Regions from separate parts of the Homo sapiens genome. Here region 2 is linked to region 1. The links come from fine-mapping of genetic effects on gene expression. A gene starts in region 1. The other region holds a variant in brackets. All regions are shown on one strand. Distances are between the middles of the regions.

The links. PIP is the estimated chance that this variant, and not a neighbour inherited with it, causes the effect. A credible set is the group of variants that fine-mapping cannot tell apart.
Region 2: its variant is the best candidate, but not a certain one, in a credible set for the expression of RAB37-AS1 in whole blood (INTERVAL, PIP 0.63).

Annotation. Positions count from the first base shown.
Region 1 is chr17:74,674,839-74,679,227 of GRCh38, reverse strand. RAB37-AS1 (RAB37 antisense RNA 1) reads left to right here and starts at 1,618. Exons shown (of 2, transcript XR_007065904.1): 1 at 1,618-1,879; 2 at 2,760-4,389. It also overlaps a transcript of RAB37 not described here.
Region 2 is chr17:74,646,949-74,651,337 of GRCh38, reverse strand. No RefSeq gene overlaps it. Among named protein-coding and RNA genes, the nearest start is that of CD300E, 25 kb to the right of the region's middle. The variant A/G (reference allele first, on the strand shown) is at 2,171.

The sequences.
Region 1 (4,389 bases):
ACAGTTCCGATTTTTAATAAACAGAGTTGCTGGGAGAGGGTATGAATGCAAAATTCAAACAGGCGAGGGAGGAAGAAGAGGAGGAGAAATGTTTACTTTGCCTTTTTTTTTTTTTTTGAGACAGAGTCTTGCTTTGTTGCCCAGGCTGGAGTGCAGTGGTGCGATCTCGGCTCACTGCAACCTCAGCCTTCCGGGTTCAAGTGATTCTCCTGCCTCAGCCTCCCAAGTAGCTGGGGTTACAGGCGCCTGCCACCACGCCCAGCTAATTTTTGTATTTTTACTAGAGACAGAGTTTCCTCATGCTGGCCAGGCTGATCTTGAACTCCTGACCTCAGGTGATCTGCCTGCCTTGGACTCCCAAAGTGCTGGGATTACAGGACTAAGCCACTGCACCCAGCCTGCTTTGCTTTTAAAAGGCTCATAACAAAAGCTAAGGGGAGACAGAGAACAAAAACGGATGATCACTGGCCCTGCCCACAGCTCATGAGAGGAAGGGTGCGTATGTGTGCATGTGCAGGCATGTGTGTGTGTGTGTGTGTGTGTGTCTGTGTGTCTGTGTGTGTGGTGGCCAGGGGCAGAAGGCTAGCAAGTAAGAGAAAATTTGAACTTAAGCACAGCTTGGTTTCAGATACCTAAAAGCATGTGCATTTGCAAAAGCACAAATGATTAAATAGCATCCTCATGTTGATGGGTAGAAACTGTCTGCTAATAAGCAAATGAGAAGGTGCTAATAAGCAAATGAAAAGGCGCTGATAAGCAAATGAGAAGGGAGGGAGCTGACTTAGAAATCAAGGTCAGGAACCATGTGCTGGGAGAATTCTTGAGCCCTGCACGTCTCAAGTTATTTTCACTGCACCACTCAAGGCCTTGCTCCCTTTAGGAGCAGGGTGAGGCCTGGTGTCATCAGTTAGGGGTTAATATTTTCCAGATCTGTTTGCTTGGAGCTGTCTCTCTTGGCCCCAGAAAACCTCCTCTGGTTAAGAGATAGGAGGATGTCCAGGGCCACTCCCAGCTGGGAACTACATTGCCTGAGTGAGTTAACAAGGAGCTGTGATCTCCATTCGCACTCGCAGTCTCTACAGACTGTTTCTCTTGCCTGAGAAGAGGAGGAAGGAAGCAAGAAGGGTATTGGGATAAATTTAGAGCCACTTCAAATGCCCACTTCAACAATTCTCCAGCCTGGTGCTCACCTCTGGCTGTTTACTTCCACCCAGTAAGGCGGAGTTTCCTGCCCTGAAACTGAAGGACGTCCCTCCCTAGAACAGCTTATAAGAGGAAACATTAGGGCAGCAACACAAGTGAGTCTCAGACATTTTCTCACAAAAGGCCCCAGGGACCACAAATTAAAGGAAAGGATGCTTAGGAGAGGAAAGCCTGGAGAGTTTGGAAAACGACTTTGAGGCGCTGGACTGAGTCACCATCATTTCCTGCTGAGGTTATCCTAAGAGAACTAGCAGGCACCACCACTCCCCACACCAGCTGCCTGCTCTGGGATCTGGGCAGGACCGACCTATCAGCCAAAGGAGTCCCAGACGGCACCAGATTGCCAGTGATGTAATATACACTTCATTTGTTTATCTGTAAGCCTTCAGAGCAAGCAAGAGAGGAAAACAAGCCAGTGGAAATATTATACAGGGAGCAGCTAGCTTTTCTTGGCTTTCTTGTTTGTTCCTGAGCTGACAATAGAAATCTTTGAGAATTGGAACTAGTGCGCTTTGAAAACAAAACTCTCTTCACTTACAGGGCATGGATTTTTCTGCTAATTTGGATTCTTTTGAGGACAAATTTGCATACCATTATCATTATCATTGTTTCATCGAAAAAAAAATAAAAGAAGCACCTGTGGGATAGAGAATGAGAGAGGAACACAGAATGGCGAGTATGGTCTTTTGCTGTTTTATTTGTCTTTCTCTTGTACAATTTTCTGGCAGGGAAGGAGAACACTGTTGTATCCAGACCTTTCCCTAGGATTAATAGGTGACAGTCCCATGGGGAGGGAGCTAGCTGATGTGTGGAACTCTGTCTCTCATGGATGTTAACTTTATTTTTTATTTTTTAATTTTAATTTTTTTTGTGGGGGGACAGAGTCTCACTCTGTCACCCAGGCTGGAGTGCAATGGTGTGATCTCAGCTCACTGCAACTTCTGCTTCCTGGGTTCAAGCGATTCTCCTGCCTCTGCCTCCTGAGTAGCTGGGATTTCAGGCGTGCACCACCACGGCTGACTAATTTTTGTATTTTTAGTAGAGACGAGTTTCACCATGTTGGCCAAGCTGGTCTCGAATTCCTGACCTCATGATCCACCTGCCTCAGCCTCCCAAAGTGCTGGGATTACAGGTGTGAGCCACCGTGCCAAGCCTGGAGGTTAACTTTAATCAGAAGCCATAAGTGAGAGAGGACATTTCAAATTCAGTCAGACATGACCTTTTCTTCCTGGGTCACTCCCTTGCAGCTACCCGTATCTTTCTTAGGACACTTCTGGAATTATATAAAAGTATAGCCATTTGTGTGCATGCCTTCTAGGCCACAGGCTTAGTGAAGGTGGGAATCATTTGCGTCTATATTCTCGACAATGACCAGCCTAGTTCTTTACGCTTTGGAAATGTCCAATGCATGTTTGCTGAATGAATCGATGAGGCATGCGGACTTTTGAGGGACACAGAAATTACAAGATGGGTAATAGAAGAAGGAAGTGAAGAATAAGTGCAGGAGATGGGGGAGAGTGGCAGATATTACCTGCTTGCCTTTTCCTTTCACCCAGAAGAGGTGTTAGAGCAGTCGGAGGAAATGGACATACTTTGGAAGACAGAGACCTGGTAATCCCTTTTCACCCAAGAAGAACCAAGCCCTGGATGAATGGATGAGCAGCTCACGTTTTTCTGCCCCCCACCCCCAGTCTTTCTGAGACTGACTTTGTCCTAGGAATTGTTCGTCCCTCTGGAAGCTAGTCTGGTATGTGGATGTTCCTTAGAGCCCTGGTGATAGGGAATTAGGAAGTAAGTGCTTGAACTGAAGCCCTTTTGTCCTAATTCACTGGTATCTGGGGCAAAAGCTTGCCCTCTCTGTGAAAATGAAATGAAAATCTTTTCATTTTCTGGGAGCTCAAGGTCAGACCCTGGCACAGTAGGGACCCAATCCGTGGGCTGTTCCTGAACCCCTACCCCAGACCATTGCCCTGGATGGCTCTTGAAGCTGGTGGCAAGAGAGAACTGAGAGTTCTCTAAGGAAAAGAGCAGCCAGGTTGCTCCTTTGTTTTAAATTATTTAGCTGCACCAAATTTTCAGATTTGTGGCAACAACAACTCTATTTAAAAACTCCAGGCACATGATGGATGAGCTCAATGTTTTCAGTCAGTTCCCAGCTTCCAGCCCACCCTACGGGAATCTTCTAAGAGTTACTTGGGCTTGCCTGGGTCAGCCTCCAACTATTGGGACCAGCTAAAGTGCAAGAGCTACACAATGCCTATCATGATATTTGGCGTATGTTTTTCATATAAATGAATTTCATCAAGTCCCATACACCACCTCCAAGAGAAAAAAGATACTCAACTTAGGAAGTCAGAACTGGGATGTTTGCATAGAAGTCACGCTTTTTGTATAGATGGGTTGTGTGAGTTTATTTCCATGGACTTCTGCCTGTGAAATAGGTAGTGTGTGTGTTTCTGAGATTCTCTTGTATGAAGCTGCTGCTCTTCTCACAAAGCTCATCATTTTAGGTGAGACTGAATGTGACACCCATTGAAGCTGCTTTGGAGCCCAAGATGCATGCCCTAATACAACCACTTTTTTTTTTTTTTCGGATGGAGTCTCACTCTGTCACCAGGCTGAAGTGCAGTGGTGTGATCTTGGTTCACTGCAACCTCTGCCTCCCAGGTTAAAGCGATTCTCCTGCCTCAGCCTCCTGAGTAGCTGGGACTGCAGGTGCATGCCACCACCCCCGGCTAATTTTTGTATTTTTAGTAGAAATGGGGTTTCACCATGTTGGCCAGGATGGTCTCGATCTCCTGACCTCATGATTCATCCTCCTTGGCCTCCCAAAGTGCTGGGAGCCACTGCGCCCAGCCAATACAACCACTTTTATTGAATGCTTCCTATATTCCAGAGATTTTATATATACGCGTTACATTATATTCGCTAACATCCTTGCTCAAAAATAATAAGGCAGGTATTATCATTCCTATTTTATAGCTAAGAAAATTAAGACTCACAGATGTTGCTCAAAGTCACATCAAGGTTTGGCTTATTCCAAGCCTGGAGTTTCGTTTCATCATACGACAATATCTCTTCTCTGGCAAGTTTCTAGGACTACCCTACATAACATCTGCTGTGCTGTCAAAACACAAGATGATGCTTCTTCCTCTATAATGACAATCTCTGGGGGAGGGTGTTTGG
Region 2 (4,389 bases), 28 kb after region 1:
AGCATGGACATTTAATGTGACATTGGATTGAATAACAGGGGATTGCATGCAAAGGGTTTGGTGTCAAGGGAGGTCTGATCTATAAACCCATGTGGTTAAGGTGGAAGGGACTGTCTCCTCTGCCTCTCCCGCTTCCTATTCCACCTTTCCCACCTTCCCTAACTATTTTCCTCAAGAACTACCCTCAGGTTGTATTTGCTGGTCTTCACCTGGCTTCCACTCCCACCCTCCACGGAAATGGCATTTGCAGAGATCACCAGTGCCCCTCCTGCTTCCAGACCCCAGGGCCATTCTCCTTTGCATGTTTTCCTGGACTTCCATGCTGGTGGGTACTCCGTCCTCCTCCAAACTCCAGCCTTCTTGGCTCCTGTGGCTCTGTGCTGTCTGGATTTTCCACCTATTTGCTTTTTTTTATAGCCATTTTCACTTTTCTTCCTGGATTCCTTGTCTTCTTTCCATTCTTTAAATTGTGTTTACGCCCAGTGTTCTGCCCTGCTTTCTTCTTTTCCTTCTATACACTCACTGGGTGATTTGCAGCCACTTTCATGATTTCAACTCCTGCTTAGGATCAGCGACTGCTCTTAGGCTCAGATATCCCCTAACTGCATGGCTGCAATTCAGTGGGGTGTGCTGCCACTTTCAGTGACCCTGGACACAATGGAATGGTCCAGGATTGGGCACTTGATGAAAGTCAGGCCAATCTCAGTTCTTCCCAGGCAGGGTTTCTTTTTACTTTTAACTGAGGCTAAGGAAGGAAGTAAGGCTTTCTCTGGGAATAAAACTCCTAAGATGGAAAACGTGAGAGGTGTCAGTGGCCATTTTCCCTCCTCCTGGAGAAAGCTGTCTCTAGGGTGAGAGAATAGAGCCCAGAGAGGACAAGGAAGAGAGAACCCAGGGGCTGTTTGATTGCCCGGTTCCAGTTGACCCCGACACCCAACAGGATCCTTGCCTTTCCCATGGATTTTCTTTGAATGATGGGTGATAGCCTCGTATTCCTCTAATGTATGTCCCCTTTTGCCTGAGTGTGTTCTAGGTAGGTTTATAGAACCGTGCCTTATCCTCTGGATAAATGATGACTGAACAGGCACAACGATGAGATACAGGCACGCAGTGTGTACTGAGAATCTATCACAGGCCCCGGTGCTTGGCTTGGAGCTGCAGGGAAGCCTTCTAAGGCATTTTTTTTTAATCCTGAAAGCACTGGCTTTCATTTTCCTTCTTATCTCCAGAGATGCCTCATGCTTTCAGCCTCATGAGACACAAACATCAATCAACATTAATCCTGAGATACCGCTCTGGGCGAGATATGACAGGATGCACTTTATCAACCTCTTAATGTAGTGTATGTTTCAGGTAGAAGCCAGACAGGACAGATTTTCCCCAATCTGTCAATTCCTACTACTGCTTCTTTTTGGAAAATCAACTCTGAATCCCACTCCCACAAAAAATCCGGGGGTTTTTAACTTGAAATCTTGGAGGTGAAAGGGTGCCAAGAAATTAGCTGATCCAAGGAAGATGGCCATGATGGAAAAAAGGGGACAATTTGCACCATAGGATCTCAATTTCAGAAAAAAGATACACACCCAGGATAAACAGGAAAGAATTGTCACCAGAATGTTTGCAAAAAGATAATGAAGTTGTGGTGATACTTGTTTTCTCTCTTCCGGATCTTGCAAAATTTCTATAGTCAATATATGTTACATTTGAATCAGGAAACAAAAAATAAATAAAAAAATTAAAGTTATTCTCTTTCTTAAGCTGGGTGGGGGCACATAGGTGTGCATTTTATTATTCTTTATAACTTACAGGTCGTATATACTCTTTGTAGAAAATATTTAATACTCTAATTTTTTTGGTTGCAGAAACTCTTGTTGAAATAAAACGTAATCTGGAGGCCAGGCACAGTGGCTCACGCCTGTAATCCCAGCACTTTGGGAGGCTGAGGTGTGTGTTTCACTTGAGGCCAGGAGTTCAAAACTAGCCTGGCCAACATGGTGAAGCCCCGTCTCTACTAAAAATAAAATGTAATCTGGAAGCTGCATTAAGTGATGCAGGGGTGGTCCTGGGGGCCGGCTCCCTGGTTCTCCCCTCCAATGCCCAGAGACAACCCTATGCACAACCAGGACCTCAGGTGAGAACAGTGACGTCTGGTGCCCCAGGTGAGTGGTGA[A/G]CTGGGACTAGAATCCGGTCCTTCTAACATCTTGCCCAGCTTTTCCCCCATTCGTTGCCTCTCTTCACTCAAGTTTCCTTCTTGATTTTTCCTTCTTTAAACTCATCAATGCTCAAGGCCTAAGGGATAAAACTAATGCTACATTCCTCTTCCCTGATGTTCTGTATTCACTCATTTTCTAGGATTTGTCCTTAAAATTTGAGTTTTTATTTTGATAGATGGCGAATGGCAGGAAAGGAGGAGGAAGAGGGTGACGGAGAGGTGAGGAGAGAGGGCTAGGGGCTGCCTGCAACTTCAGCCTGGTGGCTTGGTTGCCTGGTGGCCCCAACGGTGGGTTCTTGGATCAAGTGTGGTGATGTTTTCTGGCTGCTGCTGGGTCAGATGGGAGCCAACTGTTCCCAGAGGCTAAAACCACAAACAGGACAGTCCATGGAGGCTCCGTGCCCCTTAGGGACCTAGAATCCTGACGGGTCTAGCTGAGGGCTCTTGGCATGGCTGGCCAGGAAGAGGGAACTTGTTTCTGATTCTCAGCAGGCAGAATCCTGTGGATGAAGTTATTCTGTCTCTATCGATATGAGCTCTGGAGCAGCTCAGCTCTGGAGCTGTGAAAGCCTGGCACACGCACACCCACCCTCGCTTCCCTCTCTCATCAGCCATCACTCTTCACTCAGTACTCAGTGGCTGTGATAGCCCAGGAGGCCCAAGCTCAGCCCCATCCTTCTCAACTCACTTTTCCAGGCACACCTCCAACTGATTGGAGGGGACAAAAGTACATTTTTCCATCCCTGGGAAATGCAACGTGCCAGGCACTATCACCCACTGGATGCTAGGTTTCAGCTTCAGGCGAGGCAGTGAGAACCCTCCTCAGCTGCTACCCTCCCCTGCCCTCCCCTCTCCCTCCTTCCCCATGGGATCTGTAGGGCCCGCAGCTCTGCATTGGCTTTGCTCAGACACACCAGCCTCAGGGTGCAGCTGCTATGCACTGGGGGACTGCACTGCCTCTCCTGTCACTGTGAGTCCTGGCATCTTAGTTCTCAAACATGCAGTTGAGTCAAGAAGAATGATGGCCATTCCTTCATCTCCTGACTTTTAGGATCTGGGCTAAGCTAGGACACAAACCAGGCTCAGAAATGAGGCTTTGGCTCCTGGCACCCACAGCTCTGGATTTGCAGGACAGATAAGACACGGAGCCTGCCCCGGAGCTCTTTCAGCCAGCTTCCCCACAGACAGCAGTTGGAGCTGCTGGGCCAGGCTTTGCTGGGTCCATTTAGCTTGGGGCATCTGAGAGGGGACGGTGGTGTCCTTTATCTCCAGGACTCCCACAGAGCCAGTGGACTCTGCAGCTGGGCTCTGGGTGCCTTGTGGCCGTCCTTGGGAGGTTGCCACTTGACCAAGGGAAGGAGATGGAGAGACAGCCTGAGATTTGGGGTGTGTAGAAGCTTCTCCCTCTGATTGCCCTGAATTTAGGTGAGATTTCAGTGGCATTGGAAATCTAAACTTAGGTTTGGAAAGGAGTTTCAGGCCAGGTGCGGTGGCTCATGCCTGTAACCCCAGCACTTTGGGAGGCCAAGGCAGGCTGATCACCTGAGGTCAGGAATTCGAGATCAGCTTGGCCAACATGGCAAAACTCCATCTCTACTAAACACACACACACACACACACACACACACACACACACATCAACTGGGCATGGTTGTGGGCACCTGTAATCCCAGCTACTTGGGAGGCTGAGGCAGGAGAATCGCTTGAACCTGGGAGGTGAAGATCGCAGTGAGCTGAGATTGCACCACTGCACTCCAGCCTGGGCGACAGAGTGAGACTCCGTCTCTGAAAAATAGAAAAGACTGGAGTTTCAGAGTGTGGTGGCCCTCCTGGGAGGACCCAGGGATGTGTGATTGTGCCATACAGTTTATGCATCTGGATAATAATAATAATACCTACTTTGTTTGACTTGCACGGGATTTAAGCAAAGTAATAACAGAAAGCATCTAAAGTGGTCTCTGAAACAAAGTAAACTCAGTAATTCTTAGCAATTATTATGTCTCTGGCCATGGCTGGCAGACCCTGGACCTGAACCTGGGTAGCAAATGTCACACTGCCCTGCTCTTGTTCTTTTTCTTTTTCTTTTGTGACAGAGTCTCTCTCTGTTGCTCAGGCTGGAGTGCAGTGGTGTGATCTTGGCTCACTGCAACTGCCACCTCACAGGTTCACGCGATTCT